Homo sapiens: one gene and its partners. The protein of the gene in region 1 purifies or fractionates together with the protein of each later gene. This does not show direct contact. Each region holds a gene or a part of one and is shown in the gene's direction. Other genes may lie near its edges.

Evidence for each region.
Region 2: the proteins of YBEY (region 1) and IARS2 purify together in Homo sapiens (affinity purification with mass spectrometry; 2 studies listed by BioGRID and IntAct, with this or other methods). This does not show direct contact.
Region 3: the proteins of YBEY (region 1) and MTG1 purify together in Homo sapiens (affinity purification with mass spectrometry; 2 studies listed by BioGRID and IntAct, with this or other methods). This does not show direct contact.
Region 4: the proteins of YBEY (region 1) and BCAT2 purify together in Homo sapiens (co-immunoprecipitation; 3 studies listed by BioGRID and IntAct, with this or other methods). This does not show direct contact.
Region 5: the proteins of YBEY (region 1) and MTNAP1 purify together in Homo sapiens (affinity purification with mass spectrometry; 2 studies listed by BioGRID and IntAct, with this or other methods). This does not show direct contact.
Region 6: the proteins of YBEY (region 1) and ABHD18 purify together in Homo sapiens (affinity purification with mass spectrometry; 2 studies listed by BioGRID and IntAct, with this or other methods). This does not show direct contact.
Region 7: the proteins of YBEY (region 1) and MTPAP purify together in Homo sapiens (affinity purification with mass spectrometry; 2 studies listed by BioGRID and IntAct, with this or other methods). This does not show direct contact.

What each region holds. Positions count from the first base shown.
Region 1 is NC_000021.9:46,288,776-46,292,990, forward strand, and holds part of YBEY (endoribonuclease YbeY), read left to right. Parts: intron 1-2,558; coding exon 2,559-2,687; coding exon of another isoform or gene 2,688-2,714; exon of another isoform or gene 2,715-3,743; intron 3,744-4,215. UniProt on the Homo sapiens protein: Single strand-specific metallo-endoribonuclease involved in rRNA maturation.
Region 2 is NC_000001.11:220,131,652-220,135,866, forward strand, and holds part of IARS2 (isoleucine--tRNA ligase, mitochondrial precursor), read left to right. Parts: intron 1-2,750; coding exon 2,751-2,859; intron 2,860-4,215.
Region 3 is NC_000010.11:133,400,433-133,404,647, forward strand, and holds part of MTG1 (mitochondrial ribosome-associated GTPase 1), read left to right. Parts: intron 1-1,096; coding exon 1,097-1,158; intron 1,159-1,716; coding exon 1,717-1,813; intron 1,814-2,259; coding exon 2,260-2,341; intron 2,342-4,215. UniProt on the Homo sapiens protein: Plays a role in the regulation of the mitochondrial ribosome assembly and of translational activity. Displays mitochondrial GTPase activity.
Region 4 is NC_000019.10:48,797,325-48,801,272, reverse strand, and holds part of BCAT2 (branched-chain-amino-acid aminotransferase, mitochondrial isoform a precursor), read left to right. Parts: intron 1-975; coding exon 976-1,086; intron 1,087-1,172; coding exon 1,173-1,292; intron 1,293-1,434; coding exon 1,435-1,598; intron 1,599-3,939; coding exon 3,940-3,948. UniProt on the Homo sapiens protein: Catalyzes the first reaction in the catabolism of the essential branched chain amino acids leucine, isoleucine, and valine. May also function as a transporter of branched chain alpha-keto acids.
Region 5 is NC_000017.11:73,238,363-73,242,577, forward strand, and holds part of MTNAP1 (mitochondrial nucleoid-associated protein 1), read left to right. Parts: exon of another isoform or gene 1-276; intron 277-3,738; exon of another isoform or gene 3,739-3,881; coding exon 3,882-3,989; exon of another isoform or gene 3,990-4,060; coding exon of another isoform or gene 4,061-4,070; intron 4,071-4,215. Other genes in the region: CPSF4L (putative cleavage and polyadenylation specificity factor subunit 4-like protein), read right to left, coding at 4,061-4,070. UniProt on the Homo sapiens protein: Critical regulator of mitochondrial DNA (mtDNA) abundance. Binds dsDNA throughout the mitochondrial genome without sequence specificity and controls mtDNA copy number by promoting its replication.
Region 6 is NC_000004.12:128,016,956-128,021,170, forward strand, and holds part of ABHD18 (protein ABHD18), read left to right. Parts: intron 1-407; coding exon 408-546; intron 547-3,124; coding exon 3,125-3,214; intron 3,215-4,181; coding exon 4,182-4,215.
Region 7 is NC_000010.11:30,346,177-30,351,067, reverse strand, and holds the start of MTPAP (poly(A) RNA polymerase, mitochondrial precursor), read left to right. Parts: upstream 1-1,789; 5' UTR 1,790-1,792; coding exon 1,793-1,949; intron 1,950-4,891. UniProt on the Homo sapiens protein: Polymerase that creates the 3' poly(A) tail of mitochondrial transcripts. Can use all four nucleotides, but has higher activity with ATP and UTP (in vitro). Plays a role in replication-dependent histone mRNA degradation.

The sequences.
Region 1 (4,215 bases):
GGGAAGCTAAGGTGGGAGGATCACTTGAGCCCAGGAGTTCAAGACCAGTCTGGGCAACATGGTCAAACCTTGTTTCTACAAAAAATAAAAACAACAATTAGCCGGGCATGGTGGTGTGCAGAGCTGTCGTCCCAGCTACTCAGGAGGCTAAGGTGAGAGGATCGCCTGAGCTCAAGAAACTGAGGCTGCAGTGAGCCAAGACTGCACCTCTGCACTCCACCCTGGGCCACAGAGTAACACCCTTTTTCAAAAAAAAAGTTACCATTTTCTGTAATAGGAAAATAAGAGGAGCATCCTAAATATCCAGCCATAGGTGACTGGCTTAGTGTGAACAGTCCTTAACTAAGTGGACTGGTCTTTATAGTCTTTATGTGGAAAATGTGAAAGACTCTTTAGGACAAAATACCAAGTGGAAAGAACAGGAATATACAGTCGTGTCCATGTGATGATTTAACTCTGTAGAAGTTGTGGATCTGCGTGATTCTGCATTGGGAGGGATGAAAGAAATGAAAAGCCATTTGACAAGGTGATAGCAACCTAAACAAACAGGCTTTTAAAGAAAAGGATGTTTATTTGGGATAGAGCATTGCAGTGAAAATACATGCCACATGCCATAGTAGACTGTGTGGATATTCGCATATTCAGGGAGGTAAAGGAAGGCAAGGGTTTTGTTTTTTTTTTTTTTTTTGAGACGGAGGCTTGCTCTGTCACCCAGGCTGGAGTGCAATGGCACAATCTCGGCTCACTGCAACCTCCACCTCTCAGGTCCAAGCGATTCTCCTGCTTCAGCCTCCCGAGTAGCTGGGATTACAGGCGCCCACCACCACATCTGGCTAATTTTTTTTTTTTTGTATTTTTAGTAAAGTTGGGGTTTCACCATGTTGGCCAAGCTGGTCTAGAACTCCTGACCTCAGGTGATCTACCCGCCTCTGCCTTCCAAAGTGCTGGGATTACAGGCGTGAGCCACTGAGCCCCGCCTGGCAAAGGTTTTTAAAGGAAAAAAACATAATTGTTTTGAGATAATGATCCTTGGTTGCAAAGATCAATAACAAGATTAATGTCCGTCCAAGGTTAGACAGGCAGTTGCTGGGCAGATTATCCTTGCAGAAGTTTCTGTGTGCGTGTAAGGTTGTCATAGCCTTTGTGCAAGGTTGCAGTTTTGTGTGTGTGTAAGGTTGTCATAGCCTTTGTGCAAGGTTGCAGTTTCGTGTGTGTGTGTAAGGTTGTCATAGCCTTTGTGCAAGGTTGCAGTTTTGTATGTGTGTAAGGTTGTCATAGCCTTTGTTGCAGTTTTTGCCATCTTTAGTGACAGTTTTTGTTATCAGGCATGGAAGTATGAGAATCCTCTCTTCATAGCTTTCCCCAGCTCTATTTGTCAGGTTTTTTGGTTTGTTTGTATAACCCTAATGGCTCCATTTTTATTCTGACAAATTCCTTTTTTTTTTTGAGACGGAGTCTTGCTCTGTCAGCCAGGCTGAAGTGCAATGGCGCAGTCTAGGGGCTCACTGCAACCTCCGCCTCCCAGGTTCAAGCGATTCTCCTGCCTCAGCCTCCCGAGTAGCTGGGGTTACAGGCATGTGCCATCACACCTGGCTAATTTTTGTATTTTTAGTAGAGATGGGGTTTCACCATGTTGGTCAGGCTGGTGTCAAACCCCTGACCTCTTGATCTGCCCGCCTCGGCCTCCCAAAGTGCTGGGATTACAGCTGTGAGCCACCACGCCTGGCTATTCTGACAATTTTCACAATGGAAACAATTTAGGGCACTTGTGTACGGTTGGCTGGGCAACCCACCCGCCACAGGCCCAGCTGCCACTCTGGCCTGAGACATGCATCTTAAGAGTGATTTGGGTGGCTGGCACAGTGGCTCACGCCTGTAATCCCAGCACTCTGGGAGGCTGAGGCAGGCAGATCACCTGAGGTCAGGAGTTCGAGACCAGCCTGACCCATATGATGAAACCCCATCTCTACTAAAAAATACAAAAATTAGGCCAGACGCGGTGGCTCACGCCTGTAATCCCAGCACTTTCGGAGGCCAAGGCGGGTGGATCACCTGAGGTTGGGAGTTTGAGACCAGCCTGACCAACACGGAGAAACCCAGTCTCTACTAAAAATACAAAATTAGCCGGGCGTGGTGGCGCATGCCTGTAGTCCCAGCTACTCGGGAGGCTGAGGCAGGAGAATTGCTTGAACCCAGGAGGCGGACACTCCAGCCTGGGCAACAAGAGGGAAACTCTGTCTCAGGAAAAAAAAAAAAAAAAGAAATACAAAAATTAGCTGGGCACGGTGGCATGCACCTGTAATCCCAGCTACTCAGGAGGCTGAGACAGGAGAATCACTTGAACCCGGGAGGCAGAGGTTGCAGTGAGCCGAGATCGCGCCATTCCACTGCAGCCTGGGCAACAAGAGTGAAACTCCGTCTCAAAAAAAAAAAAAAAAAAAGTGATTTGGCTCAGAGATAAGTGCTTATTTGCCTTGGGATTAACCAGGATGAAACCTGTCAACCTGTGGTTGGGTTACGTTTCCTGTTCTCTAAGTCTACATTTCCTCATTTTTTAGCATCTGAAAGCAGGTGAATTTCCCCAGCCTGATTTTCCAGATGACTACAATTTGGGAGACATTTTCCTAGGAGTGGAGTATATCTTCCATCAGTGTAAAGAAAATGAAGATTACAATGACGTCCTGACTGTAAGCGGGGATGCTGAAATCATATAACCTGGCTCATGGAACATGGGCCTTGCAAAGGGGTCAAGATCACAACCCTGCATCCATGTGTGTCCGTGGGTACCGTAAGGGCTACTGGGGGAAGAACCTGTAAGCAGGGTGTGAGGAGCACCCAGGCTGGGTAGGGACTGCATGCCCCATGCCACAGTTGAAGGAGGGAGAGAACACGCTGTGAAAACACAGAAGCTCCCAGAGAAGCCTTCTCAGCTTTTATCTCTGGAGTAGAGCAGACTATGTTGAGCTAACACAGACCTGCTGAATCAGCTTCTTTCTGAGCTGCCAGAAGTACAGAAGTTGGAGCCTCCACCACCTTCCAGATCTGTTTCTCCTCAGTGTAATCCACCTATGGGTTCTTCCTGCCCACTGCACAGACAAAACCAATTCACTGCAATTGTGGTATTGCAGTAGAGAAAGAGTTTAACACAGAGCTAGCCAAGCAGAAAGGCTGGAGTTATTATTCAACTCAATCTCCCAGAGAACTCAGAGGCTACAGTTTCTACAGGCAATTTGGCAGGCAGGGGCTAGGGAATGCCTGCTGCTGATCGGCTGCAGACGGACCATGGGGTGTCAACGATTTTTGTCCCCTGAGTCCGCCTCTGCGTGGAGCCACGGGATCAGCTGAGTCATGAGTCTCAGGTCCAGGTGGAGTCTGTAGGTTGCCAGAACTCAAAAGTCTGAAAAACATCCCAAAAGACCATTCTTAGGTTGTACTATTGACGTTATCTTATTGGGGAGCAATTGGGGCGGTCACAAATCTCGTGACCTCTGGCTGCGTGAGTCCTGAGCAGTAGGGAATTACAGCAGGGCAAGCTGGGGAAGCAAGGCCTGCGGGCTGGTTCTCCTCAGGACACCTACATCTGAGCAGAATTCAGGCCCCTCCCATCATCCTAATCTTGTGGCCCTTCACAAGCTTCACAGAGGTGGCTTCGGTCTTGAGCAAGGAGGGGATTCGTTTTAGGGAGGGATGATTACTATTCTTGATTTAAAGTTAAACTCTAGATTAAATTCCTCCCGTGGTTAGCTTGGCCTGTGCCCGGGACTGAGTGGGGACAGCCACGCAAGTTAAACTCTAGATTAAATTCCTCCCGCGGTTAGCCTGACCCGTGCCCGGGACTCAGTGGGGACAGCCACGCAAGTTAAACTCTAGATTAAATTCCTCCCGCGGTTAGCCTGACCCGTGCCCGGGACTCAGTGGGGACAGCCACGCAAGTTAGACTCTAGATTAAATTCCTCCCGCGGTTAGCCTGACCCGTGCCCGGGACTCAGTGGAGTCAGCCACACAAGTTAAACTCTAGATTAAATTCCTCCCGCGGTTAGCCTGACCCGTGCCCGGGACTCAGTGGAGTCAGCCACGCAAGTTAAACTCTAGATTAAATTCCTCCCGCGGTTAGCCTGACCCGTGCCCGGGACTCAGTGGGGACAGCCACACAAGTTAGACTCTAGATTAAATTCCTCCCGCGGTTAGCCTGACCCGTGCCCGGGACTCAGTGGG
Region 2 (4,215 bases), on another chromosome or scaffold:
ATTTTTATATTTTTAATAGAGATGGGGTTTCACCATGTTGGCCAGGCTGGTCTCGAACTCCTGACCTCAAGGGATCAGCGCTGCTCAGCCTCCCAAAGTGCTGGGATTACAGGCATGAGCCACGATGCCTGGCCACGTTGAATTTTTTTTTTTTTTTTTTTTTTGAGATGGAGTCTCACTCTGTTGCCTAGGCTGGAGTGCAATGGCACGATCTCAGCTCACTGCAACCCCCGCCTCCTAGGTTCAAGCAATTCTCCTGCCTCAGCCTCCCGAGTAGCTGCGACTACAGGCATCCACCACCATGCCTGGCTAATTTTTTGTATTTTTAGTAGAGACGGGTTTCACCATGTTAGCCAGGATGGTCTCGATCTCCTGACCTCATGATCCACCTGCCTTGGCCTCCCAAAGTGTTGGTATTACAGGCATGAGCTACCGCAAGTGGCCTGTTGAGGATTTTTGTGTCTTTGTTCAACAGAGATACTGGCCTGTAGTTTTCTTTTTTGTTGTGTCTTTGCCTGGTTTTGGTATCAGGGTAATGCTGGCTTTGTACAGTGATTTAAGAAGAGTTTCCTCCTCTTCGATGCTCTGGAGTAGTTTGAGCAGAATTGTTGTTCTTTATATATTTGGTAGAATTCAGCAGTAAAGCCATCTGGTCCTAGACTTTTCTTTGTTGGGAGATTTTTTGTTACTTATTCAGTCCGGTTACTCCTTACTGTTCTATTTCTTCCCGGTTTAATCTTGGTAGGTTGTATGTGTCCAGGGGTTTATCCATTTCCTCCAGGTTTTCCTATGTGTTAGTGTACATTTGTTTATAGTAGTCTGTGATGATCCTTTGTATTTCTCTGTTGTCTGTTGTATGTCACCTTTCTCTCTCTTTTTTTTTTTTTTTTTTGAGATGGAGTCTTGCTCTGTTGCCCAGACTGGAGTGCAGTGGCCTGATCTCATCTCACTGCAAACTCCACCTCCCAGGTTCAAGCAGTTCTCTGCCTCATTCCTCCCAAGTAGCTGGGGTTACAGGTGCCCGCCACCATGCCTGGCTAATGTTTGCGTTTTTAGTAGAGATGGGGTTTCACCATCTTGGCCAGGCTGGTCTTGAACTCCTGACCTCGTGATCCACCCGCCTTTGCCTCCCAAAGTTCTGGGATTTTACAGGCGTGAGCCACCGCACCCAGCCCCATGTCTCCTTTTTCATTTCTGATTTTGTTTATTTGGATCTTCTTTTCTATTTTCTTAGTCTAGCTAAAGATTTGTTTTCACTGCATATGCATTTACCTTCTTACATTATCTCAGACTTTCCTGGCTGCACAGACTAGATTAAACTCTTTATTTTCCCCTTGGTAACACCCATCACAGTTATTTCTTTTCTTTTTTTTTTTTGAGACAGATTCTTACTCTGTCGCCCAGGCTAGAGTGCAGTGGCACAATCTCTGCCCACTGTAACCTCCACCTCCCAGGTTCAAGTGATTCTCCTGCTTCAGCCTCCCAAGTAGCTGGGATTACAGGCGCCCACCACCGTGCCCAGATAATTTTCGTGTTTTTAGAGATGGGGTTTCGCCATGTTGGTCAACCTGGTCTCGAACTCCTGACCTCAGGATTTGCCAGCCTCCACCTCTCAAAGGGCTGGGGTTACAGGCACGAGACACTGCACCCGGCCCCATCACAGTTATTTCTTGCTTAACATAAAATCTACCCTACTAGGTGTCAGCTCCAAGAAGGCAGAGTCCAGATTTCCCCAGGGTCTAACACAATGCCTGCTATATAACAAGTGCTCAGTAATATTGGTGCAATTGAATTGGTTTGATTCAGTTATTTAAATTTTGTTTCCCCACCTCCACTCAGTTAATCTTTCTTACATGAAGATTACAACACTAAATTTTCAGTCTTAGGACATAAGGACAAATCATAATTTTACAAATAAAAGGGATTATGGGGGCTTTGAGAGTTGTGAGTTTAGATTTAAAATATAGATGTAATCTTTATCAACGACCTCATGTTACTTTTTTTTGAAAACCCTTTTATTTTGAAAAGTCATAAAGTATCATGAAGAATTACAGCATGCTCTTCATCTAGATTTCCCAACGTTAACATTAACATTTTGCTACAGTTGCTTTATATATCCTATGTATATATATGTAGAGGAAAAGATGCATCTTTTATCTCAATATTTTAGTATATATTTCCCCAAAACATGGATAGTCTCTTAACATAACCAACACAGATATCAAAATTAGGGAATTAACATTGATTCCATACTGTTAACTGTCTATAGAACTTATTCCTAGGTGGAAAGAGGAAAAAAAAAAAAGGACCCAAGATCTAATCTGAGATCACATGTCACATTTAACTGTCATGTCTCTCTAGTTCTTGTTCTGTGTCTTTCATGACATTTCATGACATTGCTTGACATTCATGCAGTACAGGTTTATTTTGTAGATGGTCTCTCTGGGTTTGTGGGATGCATTGTCATGATTAGATCCACGTTATGCATTTTAGGTAGGAATATCACAGAAAGGATACTGTGTTTATTTCAGTACATCATTTCAGAAGTCACGTGATACATCTCTGTCCCATTACTACTGGTGATGTGTAACTTTGGTCACTTTCTTGGTTAAGGTGGCATCTGTCAGTTTTCTCTATTGTAAAGTTACTTCCCTTCCTCCCCACTAATTGTTATTAATAAGTATCTTCTTTTTCTATTTTAATTAACTTAAATTTCTGGGTTTTTTTTTCTTTTAATACTTAATTTTGAGGTCCTGACCAAAGAGCAGATTTGTACTTGGAAGGAAAAGACCAGCTCGGGGGTTGGTTTCAGTCATCCTTATTAACAAGTGTGGCAGCAAGGAAGAGAGCACCTTATAAGTAAGTATTTATGCCTGAACCAACCTGCTGAGTACCTGCCAGTGTGTGAAGCACTATGCTGAGTACTACAGAGATGATAAGGCACCACTCTTGATTGCTTACAGTGTCCTGTAAGAATTTGAAGTAAAAAAAGAGAAAGGAAAAAGGAGACAACACCAAGGTGTCTTGTGAGTGTGATGCAGATCATAACTCTTTGAAGAAAAAGTCAGCATTGACTGGAGTAGTTGGGGGAACTTATGTAGTTCTTTGTTGTTGTTGTTTTTTTTTTTTTTTTTGAAAAAGGATCGCATTCAGTCACCCAGGCTGGAGTGCAATGGTGTGGTCAGAGCTCGCTGCAGCCTCCGTCTCCTTGGCTCAAGCAATCCTCCTGCTTCAGCCTCCTGAGTAGCTGGGATTACAGACATGCACCACCACACCTGGCTAATTTTTAATTTTTTTTTAGAGGTGCGTTCTCCTCCCATTGCCCATGCTGGTCCCAAACTCCTGGCCTGAAGCAGTCCTCCTGCCTTGGCCTCCCAAAGTGGTAGGATTATAGGCGTGAGCCACCATGCCTGGCCTAGAACTAGATCTTGATCTATGGTAAAACTTGACTAGGAGGAATGTAGGGAAGGATATTCAAGGTTGAGAGAAGACAGCCTGAGTGCAGATGTCCTTTATATTTGTAATATCCACAGTGGCTAGTGAACTGAAACATTGCTTTCATGAATTTTATTAAATTAGGTATTCTCATTTAGTACACATAATTACTTTTTCAAACGTGTGGGTGAAAGTACTAATCAGAAAGATTCCTAAATAGCTTAGCTTAAGATTGTGGCTCTCTTAGGATAAAAACCCATCCCAGAACATTTCACATGTTTCTTTTTTTTTTGAGATGGAGTCTTGTTCTATTGCCTAGGCTGGAGTGCAGTGGTGCGATCTTGGCTCACTGCAGCCTCTGTCTCCCGGGTTCAAGCGATTCTCCTGCCTCAGCCTCTCGAGTAGCTGGAATTACGGAGCATGCCACCATGCCCGGCTAATTTTTGTACTTTTAATAGAGACGGGATTTCACCATGTTGGTGAGGCTGGTCTCAAACTCCTGCTCTCAAGGGATTCACCCTCCTGAGCCTCCCAAAGTGCTGGGATTACAGGCGTGAGCCCCCACGCCTGGCCCTTTTACATGTTTTTGTTTCTTAACATGCGTTTTAAAGACCAGTAAAAGGGCAGATCCTATTTTTTTCAAATTGTCTTTTGAAAATAATTTTGAGATGATAATCTGCTCTTTTTAAGACATACTTTTTCCTGGTTTTATTTTTTCATTTAAAATTTTTTTTTTTTTTTTTTTTTAGTGAGTTATATAGTTTTTCCGCTATCACCACA
Region 3 (4,215 bases), on another chromosome or scaffold:
GGGCTCTTTTCCTTAAGTATTTTCAAGTTTAATTCAAGTCCTTGTTGGCTTCATTTTTCATATTAATAAGGCATTTATTAACAAACCCATTCATGATGTGCAAATCTGAAGGCTTTAAACTACGGTGAACTGTTATTTTACAGAGAGGGTGTTTTTGGTGCTAATTGGAGCATTGTTACAGTCATTTATTCTTTTAAGTTTATTTTTAAGCGTATTATTTTTTATCAGTGGTATTAAGTGCATTTATAGGGTTATGCAGCCAGCACCACTATTTTCAAATATTTTGGTTACCTGAAAATGAAACTCTGTAAATACAAAGAGTCACTCCCCCAGCCTCCTACACCCCTCGTTCCACTTTCTGTCTGTGAATTCGATGACTGTAACTGCCTCCTCCAAGTGGACTCACAGTACTTGGCCTTTTGTGACTGGCTGATGTCACCGATCGTGATGTCCTCAAGGTTCGTCTGTGTTGTCCTGAGTGTCAGAATTTTATTCCTTTTTAAGGCTGATCACCCCGTTGTGTGTACAGACCACATCCTGTCTTGTCCATTCATCTGGATGGACACTTGTGTTTTTTATTCTTGGGTTGTTTGTCCACAGTGGAGTGGCCTCCTTGGGACACACCCTGAGCTGGGTCCTAGAGCAGCCAGTCGCCTGTGGACAGTGCTGTGGGAGGCAGGCTGACCTTGGGGTGCAGGGGTGGGTCCAGGAGGGAGGTGGGGGACTGCGTGGAAGGAGCAGCTCAGGTCTGACCTCCGCAGTCTGACAGTGCCTTTCCAGTCCTGGGGAGTTAGGTTCTGGTGCATTTGTTGAAGAATCTCAGTCTCTGTGTGGCTTGGAAAGTGCCCTTGCTGTGAGCTGGTTTGTGACTGAAAGTGAAACAAATTATAGCCTTGGGAAGCTCATCTGGCTTTTAGTTTCCATTTTGGCCAGATATGTTTGTTACATAGTCTCCCTGCTTGGCTGGTAAGTTGTGTTTGTTACATAGTCTCCCTGCTTGGCTGGTCAGATGTGTTTGTTACATACGTCTCCCTACTTGTTCTGCAGCTTCTGTGTTTAGTATACATTTGAGCCTCCTTTTCTCCTTTTCCTACAGGGAAAGCCACCAGGGTGGGTGGCGAGCCTGGGATCACCAGAGCTGTGATGTCCAAAATTCAGGTGGAGTCCTCAGGGGCCAGGCCCAGCACTCTGTCAAGAGCTCTGCAGGCGTCTGGCACCTGCCGACCTCTGTGTGGCTTCCGGCTGCTGACCACGCTTCCCTCCCCTCCACTCAGTGTCCCCGCTGAGCACCCCCGGGGCAGGCACTGCCCCTGCCCTTATTCCACAGTCGTCATAGTCTTTGCGCCAAACCTTTGGGGAAGGCACGCTGTTTTCCCCATTTCCAGATGAGGAGGCCACTGTCCAGGGCCATGCAGTGGTCAGGACAGACCTGAGTGTGGCGCCCCCCGCCCCACCCTCCACTCCCTTCCTTGTGTTCTCCTTGGGAGCAGAAGACAAGCTGTTGGGACCTGACGCTTTTATTTATTCTCCAAATTAAGTGGGAATTAGATCCTCTGGGGAACCCTGGAGCTTGGTGAGAGTGACGCTGCCATGGGGTTGGGTCCCTGAGGCCTTCCTCGGAGCATTGGGTGCCAGGGGCTGCCCAGGCTTCCTGAGTGGCCCACCTGGGTGGGAGGCTGCCACCGCGGCCTGATCATGCCCTCTGTGCCCACACAGGTCTCTGAGCGGCCCCTGATGTTCCTGTTGGACACTCCTGGCGTGCTGGCTCCTCGGATTGAAAGTGTGGAGACAGGCCTGAAGCTGGCCCTGTGTGGTGAGCCGGGGCTGGGGCTGGGGCTGGGGCTGGGACCGGGGCCCCTGCCACCCCACCTTTAGGGCTGGCTTTGGCACAGGGCCCCTAGACGGGAGTTGTTACTGCCTTTGACCTGGTTGCTGCCAGACCTTCCTCGAAGCTTAGTGTGAGAGCTGTAATAGTGCACAGCTGACAGGCACTGGTCACCATTCCACCCTGCCCCATGAGTGGCCTTCCCTTTCCCCATTTGACGGACCAGGGCAGAGAGGTTGGTCGCAGGTGCCAGGCAGGAGTGGGGGCCGGGACCACAGCCGAGTGCCGTCCTCTTGGTTAGTGTCTTTGTCAGTGGCTGGCCTCTTCCTCACGGCACGGTGTCTTTGGGCTAGGACTGGAAGGGATGTGTTTGAACTTGGCAGGAACATAGATGTGGCTGTTTCCAGTGCTCACCTCGGCTGCTGCTTCCACAGGAACGGTGCTGGACCACCTGGTCGGGGAGGAGACCATGGCTGACTACCTGCTGTACACCCTCAACAAACACCAGCGCTTTGGGTGAGTGCAGTGAATGCAGGGCAGCTGGGGCCCCTCCTCCTAGTCACCTCATTTAAAAAAAAAAAACAAACAAAAAAACCCCCAGCATTATAAAGGTATTATAAACACGGTAACCTGCACATCGTTTAAAGCGTCCAGTTGGACAAGTTCGGGAGTATGGCTATACGTCTGTGAAAGCAACACACAATCAAGAAAACGAGCGTTCCCGTCACCCCCAGTCCCTGCTCCTCTTTCGTGAAATCAAGGAAACGAGCGTTCCCGTCACCCCCCATCCCTGCTCCTCCTTCGTGAAATCAAGGAAACGAGCGTTCCCGTCACCCCCAGTCCCTGCTCCTCCTTCGTGAAATCAAGGAAACGAGCGTTCCCGTCACCCCCAGTCCCTGCTCCTCCTTCGTGAAATCAAGGAAACGAGCGTTCCCGTCACCCCCAGTCCCTGCTCCTCCTTCGTGAAATCAAGGAAACGAGCGTTCCCGTCACCCCCAGTCCCTGCTCCTCCTTCGTGAAATCAAGGAAACGAGCGTTCCCGTCACCCCCAGTCCCTGCTCCTCCTTCGTGAAATCAAGGAAATGAGCGTTCCCGTCACCCCCAGTCCCTGCTCCTCCTTCGTGAAATCAAGGAAATGAGCGTTCCCGTCACCCCCAGTCCCTGTGCTCCTTCGTGATCACACCTTCCTGCCCCTCCCTGAGCCCAGGCAGCCGTCTACTGTCCCTGTAGGTTGCTTTGGGTTTTCTAGAATTCCACGTAGATGGAATCACACAGGATGTGCATTCTTGTTGATCTGTCACTCGGCACGATTGTTGTGTGATCCCCGTGTGTCGTCGTGTGTTGTCCGTCATTCATCCTTTTTGTTGCCAGGCGGTTTCAGTGTCCAGGTGCGCTGCAGTCTGTCCCTTCACCCGTTGATGGATATGTGGGTTGTTTGCAGGTTTTGGCTATTGCAGATAAAGCTGCTGTGAACATTCATGTACCGACAGGTCTTTGTGTAGATCCGGGCTTTCGTTTCCCTTGGGTTAATACCTAGGAGTAGAGTGGCTGGATCATAGGGGAGGCATATGTTTGAGTTTTTAAGAAACCGCCACATTGTTTTCCAAGGTAGTTACACTGTTTTATATGCTGGCAAGCAGGGAATGAGTCCTTCAGTTTCTCTAAGATCAGTCTTTAACTTTGGCCTGTCTGATGGGCGGGCGTGTAGGGGTGTCGCATAGCATTTCAATTTGCATTTCCCTGATGACAGGGACGTTGAGCATCTTCATGTGCTTATTTGTCATCCCTCTCTGGGGAAATGTCTGTTCAAATCCTTTTCCCTTTTTTTTTTTTTAACTGAGTTGTTTCTTTCCTTATTGCTAAGTTTTAATCTTTTTTTTTTTTTTTTTTTTGAGACAGGGTCTCAGTTACCCAGGCTGAAGTGCAGTGGTACAGTCTCAGCTCACTGCAGCCTGACCTCCTGGGCTCAAGCGATCCTCCCACTTCAGCCTCCCAAGTAGCTGAGACTACAGGCGTGTGCCACCACACATAGCTGATTTTTGTATTTTTTGTAGAGACAGGGTTTCCCCATGTTGCCCAGGCTGGTCTTGAACTCCTGGGCTCAAGGGATCTGCCCGCCTCAGCCTCCCAAAGCATTAGGATTATAGGCATGAGGCACCATGCCCAGCCTGTAACCTTTTTCTAATATATTCTGGATACAAGTCCTTAATCAGAGATACGGTTTGTAAATACTTTAAGTCTGTGCCTTGTCTTTTCAGCCCTCTTAACAGTGTTTTCCGAGGAGTAGAATTGTTAATTTTCATGCAGTCCAGTTTATCAGCTAGATCTTTTCCAGAGTACTCTTGTTGTCATATCTAAGAAATCTTTGCTTAAACCAGGGTCACAAGGGT
Region 4 (3,948 bases), on another chromosome or scaffold:
TTCATCAAAAACCCACTATGGGAAAAAAAAAAAAAGTCTGGCTGGGTGCAGTGGCTCACCCCTGTAATCCTAGCACTTTGGGAGGCTGAGGCGGGTGGATCAACTAAAAATACAAAAATTAGCTGGGCGTGGTGGTGGGCGCCTGTAATCCCAGCTACCCAGGAGGCCGAGGCACAAGAATCACTTGGACCTGGGAGGCGGAGGTTGCAATCAGCAGAGATCACGCCACTGCACTCCAGCCTGGGTGACAGAGTGAGACCCTGTCTCAAAACAAAACAAAACAAAACAAAACAAAAAAACACTCTGTGCCAAGCGCTGCCTACCCTGGTGCATGGGACTGCAGGAGAGGCTGTCTGGTAAACGTGTCAAGGGTAATCCCTGCCTTCCAGGCTCTTCCACTCTGCAGTGGAGCAGATGCTGAACAAGCAAACTTGGAACCATGGGGCAGTGATCAGGGACAGAGTCTCCAGAAAAAAAAAACTAGGTCCCAGGCTGGAGTGCAGTGGCATGATCGTGGCTCACTGCAGTCTCAAACTCCCAGGCTCAAGTGATCCTCCCACCACCTTCCAAATACCTGGGACTCCAGTCACGTGCTACCACGTCTGGCTAATTTTCGTATTTTTTGGTAGAGATGGGGTCTTGCTATAATGCCTGGGCTGGTCACGAACTCCTACACTCAAGTGATCCTCCTGCCTCGGCCTCCCAAAGTGCTGGGATTACAGTGAGCCACTGAGCCCGGTCGTGTCCTTTGCTTTCTAGAGTCTCCGTGTGTCTCTACCTGTTTGTCTCCCTGTCTATATCTGTCTCTCTTTTTCTCCATCTCTCTGACCCAGCTGCTAAATCTCCCCGGTGCTCTCCTCTTGGCCTCCATCTTTCAGTTGTCTGTGTCTTTGTGTATCTGTCTCTGTCTGTCTTGGTGTCTCTCATGACTGTCTGGAGAAGTCTCTGAGCCTCCCCACCCGCGTGTCCCCGCAGCTGTTTGAGGGCATGAAGGCGTTCAAAGGCAAAGACCAGCAGGTGCGCCTCTTCCGCCCCTGGCTCAACATGGACCGGATGCTGCGCTCAGCCATGCGCCTGTGCCTGCCGGTGAGGGGTCCCGGTCCACCGGGGTGGGGAGGAGGGCTGGGGCCGGGGCAGCAAGGGCCCCTTGACTCATTCAGAATCCCACCCAGAGTTTCGACAAGCTGGAGTTGCTGGAGTGCATCCGCCGGCTCATCGAAGTGGACAAGGACTGGGTCCCCGATGCCGCCGGCACCAGCCTCTATGTGCGGCCTGTGCTCATTGGGAACGAGGTGGGCCCAACTCCAGGGCTGGGAAGCTGGGCTGCGGGGGTTGGATTCTGCAGGGCAGGGGTGGGGTCCTGGAGGCCTGGGCCTGGGGACGGGAAGGGACTGGGGGCCTGGACTCCTGACGCTGTCCCTTTGCCCGTCGCAGCCCTCGCTGGGTGTCAGCCAGCCCACGCGCGCGCTCCTGTTCGTCATTCTCTGCCCAGTGGGTGCCTACTTCCCTGGAGGCTCCGTGACCCCGGTCTCCCTCCTGGCCGACCCAGCCTTCATCCGGGCCTGGGTGGGCGGGGTCGGCAACTACAAGTTAGGTGGGTAAGTAGCACCCCCATCCCCAGAACGACTGGCGCACTGGGCGTTGGAGACACAGGGACCAGCGTGCGTGCTTTCGGCCATGCCTCTGGATGTCACATGAAGGTGACATCATCAGCACCGTGCAGGGCTCAGTGCTAAGTGACCTCCCTGGTCCCTGAAAACAAACCATGGAAGGAAGGAGGAGGGGATTATTTTTCAGATGGACAAAAAGGCTCACAGATGGGAAGGCATTGGGTGGAGGTCAGTGGGGAAACCAGGACTGGTCCCTGGAAGCCTCCAGGAGTGAAGCTTACACTCAGCTCATTGGCTTCTCGCCCCAGAAGCCTCCCCTGATCCCCCAGGCTGGGCTGCGCTCCCCATACCCAGCTCCCACAGTCGTTTGAGCCTCCAAAGCCCCTCACCCCCGTGTGGACTTTCTGTGTAAATCTGTCTCCCAGTGGCCTCAGCTCAGCAGGGCAGGAAGGAGACAGCTGGGTCTCCTGGGCAACCAAGGCAGAGGGTGGGCACTGGCGTGTTGGGACAGGAATGTGGCCCCAGCTGGGGGTGCATTCAGGTCCTTTCAGCCACATCCTGTGAGGTCTCCTGAGGGCCAGGCCCTGTGCTGGCAGAAGCTGGGGACACAGATGAGTCAGCCCCGAGCCCTGCTCTCCTGGGTCTCCCAGGCTGGTGGGAGCCCCAGTATTCGGAGCTGCATGTTCTCTGGTGAGGTGACCCAGGGCATTGTGAAAGCCTTCACAGAGGCCAGAGGCGGTGGCTCACGCCTGTAATCCCAGCACTTTGGGAGGCTGAGGCGGGCAGATCACGAGGTCAGGAGATCGAGACCATCCTGATTAACACAGTGAAACCCCATCTCTACTAAAAATACAAAAAAAAAAAAAAAAAATTAGCCGGGCTTGGTGGCGGGCGCCTGTAGTCGCAGCTACTCAGGAGGCTGAGGCAGGACAATGGCGAGAACCCAGGAGACAGAGCTTGCAGTGAGCCGAGATCGCGCCACTGCACTCCAGCCTGGGCGACAGAGCGAAACTCCATCTCAAAAAAAAAAAAGAAAGGTTTCGCAGAGGAGGCGACCCTTCAACTAGGTCTGACGAGGAGGGAGGAGGGGGTTTCCTGGGTACAAAAGTCAGCAAACTGTTTCCAGTCCTGGGAACCATGTGTACAGGGACAGAAGGAATAGGATCACAGAAGATGTTCAGGTTACAAAAATAAGTTTGGGTTTTGAAAAATGCTTAGCAAGTATTCATTAGACCCAGGCAGGCCTGGAATGCCGGAAGGAGGCTAGGGTCTTGTCCTGGGGCACTGGGGAGCCATGGGAGGCTTGTTAGCAGCTGAGGGGAGAGGCTATCTCTGGGAGAGAGACTCAGAAAGTCATCCAGGTAGCCCAGTTCACTGGGGGAGTCCAGGGAAGGTCCAGCACCCAGCCTGGAGGTCTGGAAACACCTCTCGAGGAGGTGACAACAGAAACGGTTTTGGAGCCAGGCGCGGTAGCTCACGCTTGTAATCCCAGCACTTTGGGAGGCCGAGGTAGGCGGATCACTTGAGGTCAGGAGTTTGAGACCAGCCTGGCCAACATGGTGAAACCCCGTCTCTACTAAAAATATAAAAAGTAAGGCCGGGCGCTGTGGCTCACTCTTGTAATCCCAGCACTTTGGGGGGCTGAGGCGGGCATATAAATATAAATGTGAATATAAATTAGCCGGACATGGTGCTGCATGCCCCAGTTACTCCAGTTACTCAGGAGGCTGAGGCACGAGAATCGCTTGGACCCGAGAGGCGGAGGTTGCAGTGAGCTGAGATCGCACCACTGCACTCTAGCCTCAGCCTGGGCGACAGAGCAAGACTCTGTCTCAAAAAAAAAAAAAAGAAAAAAAGAAAAAAAGAAATGGTTTTGAATGACAGCTGAGGATTTGGTCAGTATGAAATGGGTGAGGGCTGGGCGCGGTGGCTCACGCCTGTAATCCCAGCACTTTGGGAGGCTGAGGCGGGCAGATCACCAGGTCAAGAGAGGCTGAGGCAGGAGAATCTCTTGAACCTGGGAGGCGGAGGTTGCAGTGAGCCAAGATCGCACCACTGCACTCCAGCCTGGGTGACAGAGCGAGACTCCGTCTTAAAAAAAAAAGAAAAGAAAAGAAAGAAAAGTGGGAAGAGACAGGAGAGAGGGGACATAACCATTTAGGGTCCTGATGCCAAATGAAAAGTCAAGGATTCCATCTCAGGGGAACTGGGGAGCCCTGTGAGAGCTGTGAGCAGGGAGACGGGAGAGAGTAGGATGAGCCTCCTCTGGGGCTGGGCTGGGGAAGGATGGGGCTCCCTTGCCCCACCCAACCAGACTGCCCTCCACCAGGAATTATGG
Region 5 (4,215 bases), on another chromosome or scaffold:
CAGAATAGGTTTGCAAGAGAAAAACTGGTATTATCTCTTCCTAAAGGGAAATCATTTTCTTCTCTGGTAGATTTTGCAAATGATCTCATATTCACTAAACCTCTATTTGCCTGGTCTCAAAATGGATGTGTACTAAAAGCAGAACATTGCTAGCCCAAAGCTACATTTTCTTTAACTACCTTCTATAAACAGGCCTAACGTCTAGACCTTTTTGCACAAAGTTGTAGTCACAAAGTCAAGCCCCTTCTCCGTAATAAACACATTTAATTATATTAACATTTGTGTTGCTTTGTGGTTTTCAGAGTGCCTCCATCTGTATTTTTTTTATTTTGGGCACAAGGTGGACAGAGAGGTGGGCAGAGTGAATTTATCCTATTTTGTGGATGATGAAACAGGCACAGAGAGCATAAGTGATTTGTCCAAGTTTGTGTTGCCAATAAATAGTAGAGCTGCAAGGAGAACCTAGTTTCCTGAGGCCTAGTTTAATCTTTTCCACTAAACCATGTTGTAGAAAATACACCATAACTAAAACCATGTTTGTTATAGTGCCATACTTTTCTGTGTGTGTGTGTGTTTTGTTTTTTTGTTTGTTTGTTTTTTGAGACAGAGTTTTGCTCATTGCCCAGGTTGGAGTGCAGTGGTGTGATCTTGGCTCACCTCTGCCTCCTGGGTTCAAGCGATTCTCCTGCCTCAGCCTCCCAAGTAGCTGGGATACAGGTATGCGCCACCACGCCCGGCTAATTTTGTATTTTTAGTAGAGATGGGGTTTCTCCGTGTTGGTCAGGCTGGTCTTGAACTCGTGACCTCAGGTGATCTGCCCGCCTCAACCTCCCAAAGTGCTGGGATTACAGGTGTGAACCACCGTGTCCAGCCTTCTGTGTTTTTCAGTTGCAGATGCACACACTCCCCCCATGATAAATCTCTCTACCAAATTGAAGGACTTGTGTATTTTCTGTACTACATTTTATAGTGCTTAGGAGTGTCCTTGATACACACTTTTCATTTTAGAGGAAAAAGTGAGGGACCTGACGTTTATCTGTGATGACTATGACTATCGTTATGCTAGATACATTATGTCATTTAATCCTCATAACAGCTCTGAGTGACACCACTGTCCCACCCTCTTATTCCTCTTGAGGAATCTGAGCTTCAGACATCTTTTTTTTTTTTTCTTGAGACAGAGTCTTGCTCTGTCTCCCAGGCTGGAGTGCAATGGCACAATCACGGCTCACTGCAACCTCCACCTCCCAGGTTCAAGCGATTCTCCTGCTTCAGGCTCCAGAGTAGCTGGGATTACAGGTGCCTGCCACCACGCCCAGCTAATTTTTTTTTTTTTTAAGTAGAGATGGGGTTTTGCCATGTTGGCCAGGCTGGTCTCGAACTCCTGACCTCAGGTGATCCTCCCGCCTTGGCCTCCCAAAGTGCTGGGATTACAGGTGTGAGCCACCAGGCCTGGCCTGAGCTTCAGACATTAAGTGACTTCCCTATGTTCATGCAGTAAGTGACAGAATCAGGATTCAAACCCAGGTTCGTCTGACTCTACTAACTATTCCAAACAGTGAACCTCAAGTTGAGTTTAAAGACCACAGATAGAAGAGTCAGGTGAACCTGGAGGTATTAACTACTAACTCTCCCAAACAGTAAGCCTCAAGTAGAGTTTAAAGACCACAGATAGAAGTCAATACCTTGTTTGATATGTTATTGATACATTTCACTGTTAGCTCCTAAGAATACAATAATAAGATACAGTAACTTAAAACATTAAATTACCAAGGTTATGAGACAGGATATAGGAGGGAAAATAGAATTTTTTCTTCAGTAACAAGTTCCTTCCAAATAGTGGTGAGAAACTATTTTAATCCCTTTTATTGCTCATAGTCTGTAACTAATAAATGTTGTACTTAGTTTGGGACTTCTACATCAAGACAGTAAATAAGGTGTAATCATCATAGGGCCTCTACTTCTATTATAAACTGAAAAACTATTGAAGTTGGATCCAGGATCAGTGTTCAGACTTTGATGTTACCACCAAATGAACACAAGATACTAGAGGAGAGAGACCCTAGGATCAGGTCAAGCCCTGATCCCTCCATTGGCCAAGGACTTCAAGGCCATATCAATCTATAGGGATTAAAAGATGGTGCCATTGGCTCCTTAAAAAGCTTTGTAATTTCACCAGGCAATGACTGTCTCCAATGACTGCAAATTAGAGTTTTATTGGAATCTTTGCACAAGAGAATGGGCTATACCTTTTCTCACTCAGGCAAGACCTTTGATAGGTCATTTGCCCTTCTCAGGAAGCCAACTCATTCCTTTGGTACTTAAAAGGCAGGGCCAGTGAGCTAACAGTTACTGAATTAACTGCAGGTCAGGACAGTAGGCTCACCTGACTGGAGAAAGCAGGGCAAGGTCAGGGAGCCACGTGATCCTGACACTGCTGACAACATGGTTGCAATTTTCAGGAAGTTGTCTCTTTACACCGTTTTCCTCAAATTTTTTCCAAGATGAATGGGTTTTTTTTTTAAGAGACTAACCTTCACCTTGCAAGAGAATTATCTTCTGTGCAATTTCTTGGAAGCCAGCATGATTCTTTTCATTGTTCTTTAATGATCATTTGGATATTTTTACATCCACAGCAACTTTTACCACACTTGCTAAACCTGTTGTCGGTGTTTAATTTCTTCTTTATCTTGATGAACCAAACCAAGACTAGAGAACTATCAGTAGTAGAGATTACCTGTCATAAAACATGGAGAAAACCATGTACAGGAGAAATGTGATTAAGGAGCATAAGCCCTCTTTTTTTTGTTTTTGAGGCAGAGTCTTGCTCTGTTGCCCAGGCTGGAGTGCAGTGTAGCGATCTCTGCTCACTGCAAGCTCCGCCTCCTGGGTTCACGCCATTCTCCTGCCTCAGTCTCCCGTGTAGCTGGGACTACAAGCGCCCGCCACCACGCCCGGCTAATTTTTTCTGTTTTTTAGTAGAGACGGGGTTTTACAGTGTTAGCCAGGATGGTCTCAATCTCCTGACGTCGTGATCCACCCACCTCAGCCTCCCAAAGTGCTGGGATTACAGGCGTGAGCCACCGCGCCCGGCCTGCATAAGCCCTCTTTTCTGGTTCTGCTTAAGTTATTCATGCACTGAACATAAATAGGAAATGTTTGCTGGCCAATAATAGCGATAGGGTGATAGAACAGGCATGTTGACTGTGGGCAAGTCACAATCATAAAAGGAGAAAGTCACGCTTTTAGCTGACATGTTTAGCAGATGATAGAATATGTAAAAGAGGCCAGGCGCAGTGGTTCATGCCTATAATCCCAGCAGTTTGGGAGGCTGGGGCGGGCAGAACACATGAGGTCAGGAGTTCAAGACCAGCCTGGCCAAAGTGGCGAAACCCCGTCTCTACTAAATAACAAAAATTAGCCTGGCGTGATGGCGTGTGCCTGTAATCCCAGCTACTCGGGAGGCTGAGGCAGGAGAATCACTCGAACCCAGGAGGTAGAGGTTGCAGTGAGCCAAGATCATGCCACTGCACTCCAGCCTGGGCGAGAGAGTGAGACTGTGTCAAAAACAAAAAGATGATGTAAGAGACTCACTTCATGAAGCACATGCGCATCAATCACCTGGCCAGGGTACTCAGCAGACCAAAAAACAAGTAGACGCCCTGATTTTCAGGGGTCCCTTGGCCTTTTGAAAAACATTTTTTCAACCTGTAATTGATTTGACTTTCAACACTTAGCTGCAGTCCAATGCAGAAATCTTTAATGCACCTGTTTAGAATATGCTCTTCCTGAGGCTTAGCCGTGGATCCTTCGGCACTGGATGTTAGGGAAGGGGGTACGTTTCGGTAAACAATGACAGTGACTTCTGTTTGGAACCATAGTTTCTTTGTTGGAACGAAGCTCAACTCATATAAGGAGTTTGGAACCCCCTGCCGGACTTACAACCTCCAACTTCTCTCTAATGAGGCTCTTGGGAGCTGTACAAAAAGGTGAGGCTGGAGTTTGACTGTTGTCTTCTGTTGCAGGTTCTGGGCATTTGGAAAAGTTTCTCTTCGGGCTGTTAAGCAAGGCTAAAGAGGAGAGGAAAAAAATGTTAAAATGTGTGTTGTCTTCCTAGTTTTCCATTTGTCTGTGTTCATTTTGGAGTTGGACATAATTGAAAGCACCAAAGCTAATAACAGCTACCATTTATTCAACAGCTTGTATTTTTTAATA
Region 6 (4,215 bases), on another chromosome or scaffold:
TGCCCAGGCTGGAGTACAGTGGTGCAGTCTCAGCTCACTGCAGCCTCTGCCTCCCAGGTTCAAGCGATTTTCATGCCTCAGTTTTCCACGTAGCTGAGATCACAGGCATGCGCCACCATGCCCTGCTAATTTTTGTATTTTTAGTAAAGACAAGGTTTCACCATGTTGCCCAGGCTTGTCTTGAACTCCTGACCTCAAGCGATCCCCCTGCCTCAGCCTCCCAAAGTGCTGGGATTACAGGCGTAAGCCATCACGCCTGGCCCTAATTCCAATTTATTACATTGTTTTACTTAACTATCTGGTCCTTTAGAAGAGATGCATGAAGTCTGGCAGCCTGTTGTAAATTTGCATATATTAGCATGTAAATACATAAAATAATCATTTTCTATTTTGTTTTGTGAGGCTAGAAGGTCCAGCTTAAAAAATGTGTCCGACCTTTTTGTGATGGGAGGAGCTCTTGTTTTAGAATCTGCAGCTCTCTTGCACTGGCTAGAGAGGGAAGGTTACGGCCCTTTAGGAATGACTGGAATATCCATGGGAGGACACGTAAGCCTTTTTATTTCTGCTTACATTTAATTATGTTTATGTTTGTAAGATCTAGAGAACCTGGTTATTTTAAAAATTCACTTTAGGTATAGAATTAGTTTTAGTAAAAGTAGGAAGCAGAAACAGATTCCAAACTCTTACTCCAATTATGAAGTAATGATGTTAATTTTTTGTACGATTTATTGATTGTACTACTCCACAGTTGTATCTCAGATATTAGATTTAACAGAAATTAATTATAAAATTTAACTTTTCAAGTCTCAAGTATAAATGCCCAATTTTGCTGTTACATTGGTGAAGATAGCTGAATTGGAAAATACTTTCCATTTATCTGTCTCCCTAGTACCACTAACCTATTTTACTTTTTGTCTGCCTTTTAGAGTGTACTAAAATGGATTCCTAATTGCTTTCTCTGTCTCTAGTCTTTTCTCTTATTAATCTTTGTCTTAACCATTTCTCCTCCACACCCTAACTACAGTGATCTTTCTAAATCTAGTCTTTGTTCTGTCTTGTTCAAAACCTGCCAAAAGCTTGCGTGCACACTGGGCTCCAGCTGTGTCACGTGCTAGCATCTCTCTAGTGCTCCCTTATTCTCTTTCACCTAGGAGTAACAGCTTACCCTTCTGTTTCAGCTGTGACACCCAGCCTTACCTCCAGACTATACTTCAAACTCTGATTAGTAACTTTTTACTGTACTTTACTGACTTGTTTAGCAGTCTGTTTTCTCCATGAAGCATTTGAGATATTGAGGGCCAGGAATATGCTCTGGTTTATTACTTGGCACATATTAGTCACTCAGTACATTTTTAAAAAATTATTAGTATTTTGTTTGTGTGTGGGCTCAAGTGATCCACACAGTTTGGCCTCCCAAAGTGCTGGGATTATAGGTGTGGGCCACTGCACCTGGCCTAAAAAATAATAATACCCCAACCTAGGCAACATAGTAGTAAGACCCACCCTGTCTCTACAAAAAAAATTGTTTAAAAAATTAGCCAGGCATGGTGGCACATCTCTGTAGTTGTGGCTACATGGGAGGTTGAGGTGGGAGGATCACTTGAGCCCCAGAATTTGAGACTGCAGTGAGCTGTGATCATACCACTGCACTCCTGATTAGGTGACCCAGACAGAAGCGAGATTCTATCTCAAAGTAATAATTATTATTATATGAAGTTTCTGTATGCCTCTTGAATTAGAAAATTAAGCTCAAAAACTTACTCAAATTCAAAACTATGCTGGGCACGGTGGTTCACACCTGTAATCCCAGCACTTTGGGAGGCCGAGGCGGGCAGATCACCTGAGGTCAGGAGTTCAAGACCAGCCTGACCAACATGGTGAAACCCCGTCTCTACTAAAAATACAAAAACTAGCCGGGTGTGGTGGCACGTGCCTGTAATCCCAGCTACTCAGGAGGCTGAGGCAGGAGAATCGCCTGAACCCAGGAAGCGGAGGTTGCAGTGAGCTGAGATCGCACCACTGCACTCTAGCGTGAGCAACAGAGTGAGACTACATCTCAAAAAAAAAAAAAAAAAAAATTCAAAACAACTACCTGACAGTGAAACAAAAGATGGAAAAGGATTTATTTTCCTACCTAGTAGTGTTTCCATTGTTATCACCTAGGTCAGGTCCTTATAACTTTCACCTGGATTACTGCCTATTAACTGGTCTCCTACCTCAGTTCTCCCCTTCTCTATTCAATCCTGTAAACTACTATCATGTTACCTTCTTTGAATCACTTCTTTGACAATACTACTCCTTTGCTCAGACCTCTTTATTAATTCCCGATTATCTATAGAACAAAGGACCTCTAATCTGATCTTGATCAATCTTTCTAGCCCTACTTACCTCCCTCACTCCATTGGCCATGTGTGCCTATTGACCATCCCAACTGAAGTATATTGGCTGTTTCCCTATGAGACCCTGTGCATTCTCACAGTCTTGCCTTTGATCATACTGATTCTTTCTCTGGAAGACAAGACCCTATCTTTCATTCCTCTAGAAGACTCATCCATTTCATGAAGCCTGCCTTTCCCTTCTGATTCCTCCAGCCCAGAAGGGAAAGTAACTTTTTGAAAAGATAAAGTTTTCCCTTCTCCAAAAGGGAGAGTGATTTTACCTTCTCTAATCACACACATTACATTATTTTAGATCTATTATATAATCTGCTTTGTAGTTCACCAAATTCTTGGCATACTCAGTCAACCTCAATGGTCTGATGTTTTATAGTTGTGATTTTGCTCTATCTGGCAAGTCACTTAAGTAATGAGTGTGTTTACCCTGCTGCCCAGCATCTACATCTCAGCATCTTTGCTCCATATTTACACAGTAGAAAGTAGCTCTCAGCGAATGGTCTTGAGGTTAAAGTTTTGTATTACATTTTATTGCTATCTAAGGGGGAAATTAAATGTTGAATTTATGATTTGGGGAATTTAATGAGGTGGCTAGACATTCTCACGAATGTTTGCAGACTTTGTGTTTATCTGACCAACTATTTACTGCACGGAATGCTTATTAATATTAAATATTTTTATTTTAATGAATAGAAACTCTAAATAGACGCTCTCTATCTGTTATATTACAGATGGCTTCCTTAGCGGTATCCAACTGGCCTAAGCCCATGCCATTGATTCCATGCCTGTCTTGGTCCACAGCATCTGGGGTCTTCACTACGGTAATTTAATTGTAATTAATATTAGGTAGCTATATATAATTAGAGGTAATTGTTTTGGGGGGGTCCCCAAAACCACCCTCAGCTTTGGTGATTCAAAGAAAGAATTATAGGACTCAGGATATAGTCGTAATCATGATTAAGCCTTAACTACAGCAAAAGATACAACACAGTCAACAGAAGGAAAAAGCGCATGAGGTAGAGTCCAAAGGAAACCAAGAACAAGCTTCCAAGAGTCCTCTCCTAGTGGAGTGTTACAGTTCATGCTTAATTCTTCCAACAATAATTATTGACAATAAGTGCAAAGTGCTGTCCATCAGTGAAGCTCCCCTGAGCCTTGCAGTCCAGAGTTTTTATCAGGGGTTAGTGACTTAGATAACTTCTGCCTAGCATGCACCAAAAATTCAGAAGGAAAGCAGGTGTTCAGCAGAAACCGCATTGTTTATATAAGCAGTTTAGGTACAGTGACCCACTCTTATCATTTAGGAAAAGTTTTATATAAGTATAGAAAGCTGTTTACTGGTCAAGTTCCCAGACTCCAGTTAAGGGCCAACCTTACAAGCAGGCTAAAGATAGGAAGTCTTAGGCCAGGTGCGGTGGCTCACGCCTGTAATCCCAGCACTTTGGGAGGCTGAGGCTGGTGAACCACCTGAGGTCAGGAGTTCAAGACCAGCCTGGCCAACATGGTGAAACTCTGTCTCTACTAAAAATACAAAAATTAGCTGGGCGTGGTGGCACATGCCTGTAGTCTCAGCTACTTGGGAGGCGGAGGCAGGAGAATTGCTTGAACCCAGAAGGTGGAGGTTGCAGTGAGCCGAGATAGTGCCATTGCACTCCAGCCTGGGCAACAGAGTGAGACTTCGTCTGCAAAAAAAAAAAAAAAAGGTAGTCTCACACAGTAATAATAATAAAAGTATTGGGCAAATTGCCTTATGATGTGGTTTGATCTTAATTTAGCTTATTATTTCAGGGTGTGTTGAGTAAATCAATTAATTGGAGGGAGC
Region 7 (4,891 bases), on another chromosome or scaffold:
AAAAAGTCCTCACATCCATCCCCAAACTCATTGCTTACGCAGGACTTTCCTTGGAAGTATCAAAATCAAATATACTTCTATCTAACTTTGAGATTCTTCAACATCCATGTGGGAGTGGCAGGACTCTGTGTGGCCTGAGGGTGGCCTTGAGTGTGTGTCCGAGTGGAAGGCCCAGGATCTGGGGACTGACCTGGGGTCAAATGGCACAGCCAACTTTTTTTTTGAGACAGAGTCTTGCTCTGTTGCCAGGCTGGAGTGCAGTGGCACAATCTTGGCTCACTGAAACCTCTGCCTCCTGGGTTCAAGTGATTCTCCTGCCTCAGCCTCCCAAGTAGCTGGGATTACAGGTGCCCACCACCACACCTGGCTAATGTTTGTATTTGTAGTAGAGACAGGGTTTCGCTATGTTGGCCAGGCTGGTCTGGAATTCCTGACCTCAGGTGATCCTCCCGCCTTGGTCTCCCAAAGTTCTGGGATTACAGGCGTGAGCCACCACACCCAGCCAGCACAGCCAACTTCTAATGAGGCCACCTTAGACAAGTTACTTACTGTCTCTAAGCCTCCGTGTTCTCATCCATGAAATGGGTTTAATCACTCAGATTTGTTGAGATGATTAAAAAGGAAAATACCTGCAAGGCAATAGCACCATGCTAACACAGAGCTGGCTAGTCAGTTCCGGTGCTGGTTTGTCCTCTCTCACGCTCCGATTGCGAGGCCCCTTGCTTTTCCTTTCGCCTCCAGCAGCAGTGTATTCCCCCGGGGAGGCTGCCTTCAGTTGCAGGCTTCTTTGCACTGTTTCGTATGTCCTTTTCCCAGGCACCCGAGCAAGGGCCACTGGTTATGACACAGGCACTGAGGAGGAGCCTTGAATCAAGGGCAGAGCTCTGACTTTAAACTTTGACTCCCCAGGTGTGACCTATAGCCAGTCGTTGTCTGATCTGTGCCCCACTTTCTCATGTCCAAAATGAGAAGACTGAACCAGTCCTCTCCAATGCCTTTCGTATGGCTTTAAGATGAGGTATGTACCTCTCACTTGGAGGAGGGGCTGGCAAAACCACTTGAATTTTAATTTGAATTGAGGCATATTGGCAGAGGTTGTAAAATGTCCTCACATGGTTCAAGGAAGATGATGATGCCCTGCCTGCTCCTGGTGCCCCTTTCAGAGAGGTTAAAAGCCTTTCCATTATTTTAACTTTTTTTTTTTTTTTTTTTTTGAGACAGGGTCACGCTCTGTTGCACAGGCTTAAGTGCAGTGGCGCGATCTCGGCTCACTGCAACCTTCGCCTCCTGGGTTCAAGTGATTCTCGTGCCTCAGCCTCCCAAGTAGCTGGGATTACAGGCATGTAATCACGCCCAGCTAATTTTTTTGTATTTTTTAGTAGAGACAAGGTTTCGCCATGTTAGCCAGGCTGGTCTCGAACCCGTAACGTCAGGAGATTCACCTCCCTCAGCCTCTCAAAGTGCTGGGATTACAGGCATGAGCCACCGCGCCCGGGCTCTGGTTCTATTTTCATGATGCTATTTACAAGAGTAGGTGGAGCGCTCCTTCTATGGAACTTTTCATTTGGTAAATTGTGTGACTGTGGAAGTAAACCATGTCTGAAAGCTTAGGTATCTTCTTTCCGGCCTCAATTTCCTCTCTTCCTCTAAAAGCGAACTTCTTTCGCCTAGTTTGACCCTCGAGGCTTCCCATTTCTTTTGCCCCCCCCCTCCCCCCCGACGCATGCGCGAAAACGCGCTGACCTTTCAGCTTCGCGCTAGTGCTGTTTTTTTTTTTTTTTTTTTTTTAGCAATGGCGGTTCCCGGCGTGGGGCTCTTGACCCGTTTGAACCTGTGTGCCCGGAGAAGAACTCGAGTCCAGCGGCCTATCGTCAGGCTTTTGAGTTGCCCAGGAACTGTGGCCAAAGACCTTAGGAGAGACGAGCAGCCTTCAGGGAGCGTGGAGACAGGTGATGGCGCCGGTTTGCCCTGTAGTTCCGTCCCACAGCGGGCGAGGAGTCTGGGATCACGGGGAAACACGTGGCCTGTGGAAACGGCTGTGGACCCTTTGGCAAGAGGGTGGGGCTGTGTCCTGTCCTCTCCTCTCCTCTGATCTCTGTAGGGGAACCCAGGGTCGCCGCCGTTGCTGAGGCAGAAGTGAGATGTGTGATGTTTGTTTGGGGCGACTCCTGTGTACAGTAATGGAGTTGTTTAGACTTCCATGAAATTCAGGTCAGGAACCCAGTTTGCTTGCACTTTACAGTTTGACGAAATAGTGTTCCCAATGATAGTAATGCTACACACCTGAGCCAGTCGCTGCATCGTGTACGTATATTTCTGATTTTGATACATTAAGTTGTTGCTGGAGGCCGAGTTATATTGTAGCCTGATGAATCAAGAGGATTCTTGGTTCCTAGACATAGGGTTCTGTCTATGAAATGTACTGCCGTTTACTTTATTCTTTTTGGCCATTTTGAACCAAATCAGTCTGGTAACAGATTTGGATTCACTGCAACAGGCTGTTGTCCCGCGTTCGTTCTACATTTATATGCTTCTTTGTGTATTGAGAAGCCAGTGTTATTGAACCTCTCTTGTGACTCAAGAGCTTGTGTATTCTATTTACAGTTCTTAAAACGATCTTGCAAGAAATGTATCACTGTGTCCATTTTACAGATGTAGAAAATGGTTCAAAGAGGTAAATAACTTAGGCAAGGTCACTAGCTCAGTTAATTTAGACTTCTAGTCAAATTATTAAACAAAATGTATTGACTTCTACGATTCCTTGGAGCTATTTTTTCCCTAAAATAAGCTGGTGTCTTTATCAGACTGTATAAAAGACTTACATTGGCAGGCAGTGAGAAATCTTTATGTATTTCATTCAAATATTGATTGGATTGTATTTAGTGGAAGCTACTTCTGTTGAACATTTCTAAGTAACGCTGAAAATTTGAGTAAGGATTCTGCCAAAAAAGCTATTGTAATTTAACATTTGTATGGGTGTTTAAATTTGAGAGTATGTTCATATGCTCTTTGATATATGAAACAACCCTGTAGCGTAGGTGTGGAAGGAAATAACTGTTACTCCATTTTATAGATGAGGGAACAGGGTAGTCCAAGGGTAGCTTGAGTAGTTCAAGCTAAACTCAGCTATTCGGTGGCAAAAATTAAAAAACCCACTGTTTTTTTTTTTTCTTTTTCGGGACGAAGTCTTGCTCTGTCACCCAGGCTGGAGTGCAATGGCACGATCTTGGCTCACGGCAACCTTGGCCTCCCGGGTTTAAGTGATTCTCCTGCCTCAGCCTCCCGAGTAGCTGGGATTACAGGCACGTGGCACCACGCCTGGCTAATTTTTGTGTTATTAGTAGAGATGGGGTTTCACCATGTTGGCCAGGCTGATCTTGAACTCCAGACTCAGGTGATCTGCCTGCCTTGGCCTCCCAAAGTGCTGGGATTACAGGCGTGAGCCACCGCGCCCAGCCAGTAAAACTCACTTCTAATTCCAAGACTATACTCTTCATTTACTGTAGCTTTGCTATTTTTCTTTTTTAAGGAAATGTTTCATTTTGTGTCATTAGAATAATACGACTAAATATTCAGGGATTCTTGCAGGAAATAACAAAATCCTCATTTGGATGTCTTTACCATTTTAAAGAAGGACAGTTAAGTACACCTTATACTCACCTAGAAGCATGTGATTTTATAATTGGAAGGAACTTGAGAAATATCCAATTCAGTTTTTCATTCAGTGTGAGGATTCATTACCAGTTTATAGCAATAAGGAACATTGTTGCATAAATCAGTCAATTCCATTTTTGGTCAGCCTCTAATGGTTGAAAAATATTTATAGTGAGCTAAAATCTGTTAATTTCCCATTTCCAGGTTGGTCTTAGTTTTGACATAGGTTTCATGTTAGTAGTGGAAAGAGCTGTAGTAGAAAGACAATAAGAGTACATGGTGTATTATTCGGGATTCTTTCTGATACAGGTAACAGAAACTAACTCAAAATAGCTTAAGTAGAAAAGGGAGACTATACCAATCTGTGTAACCAAACTCCAGAAAGAGACATATATCATACTTTAAGGTCAATTGGTTTGACGTGGTCAGTGTGAGATATTTTCATTTTCCTTAGCTGTTTTTTGGTGGCCTTATAATCTTGGGCTCTTCTACATGGGATGTTGATGATGGGGGTGATGGTCACCAGCAGCTCCACGTTCACATGCTTGCGGCTTCCGATTGATCACATGCCCACCCTTTGGATGAAGAGGAGGTGTCCAAAATAGTCTGATAATCCCTATCTCATGGGGTGGGGGATAAGTGTGACAGTTCCACCACAACCACATAGAGTGGTTTTTTACTAGCAGGGGTGTGCTGTTACCAGAACTGTTACCTGAACAGGTTTAGCTGTTGTTTGGATGCCAGCAGCCAAACCAACAACAGCTAAACTGCAGGAGGCTACCCAGCTTATTAGGTATTTGACTTTGGGCAGTTTTTTTCACCTGCAGTGATACCTACCCTGTCTATCTTAAAAGGTTATTGTGAATTTCAGAAGAGTGTGTATGTGACAGTGCTTGGAAAACTATTAAGAGAAGGTGCTATATTATGTTTAAAGCCAGTGCTCAGCTCTCAGATTCTTACAGTTTTTTTTTTCCAGGCTGTAAATCCTCTCTTTATCTGTAGTAATTGTATATTAGAGTTTCTAGACTTTTTGTTATTCCTCTCTGGATGCTCTCTGGCTTATCTATTATGTCCAGAGTAGAACATGTACTCCATATGTGGCCTGATTAGTAAGTACCAAAGAAGTGTTATTACCCCTTAAATTTGGATTTTTAAAAACGTTTGTCTCAATAAGGCCTGAAGTTCTTTATATGAATTCATTCTCTTCCTATCCTCAATCCAGAAGTTAAGACATTCC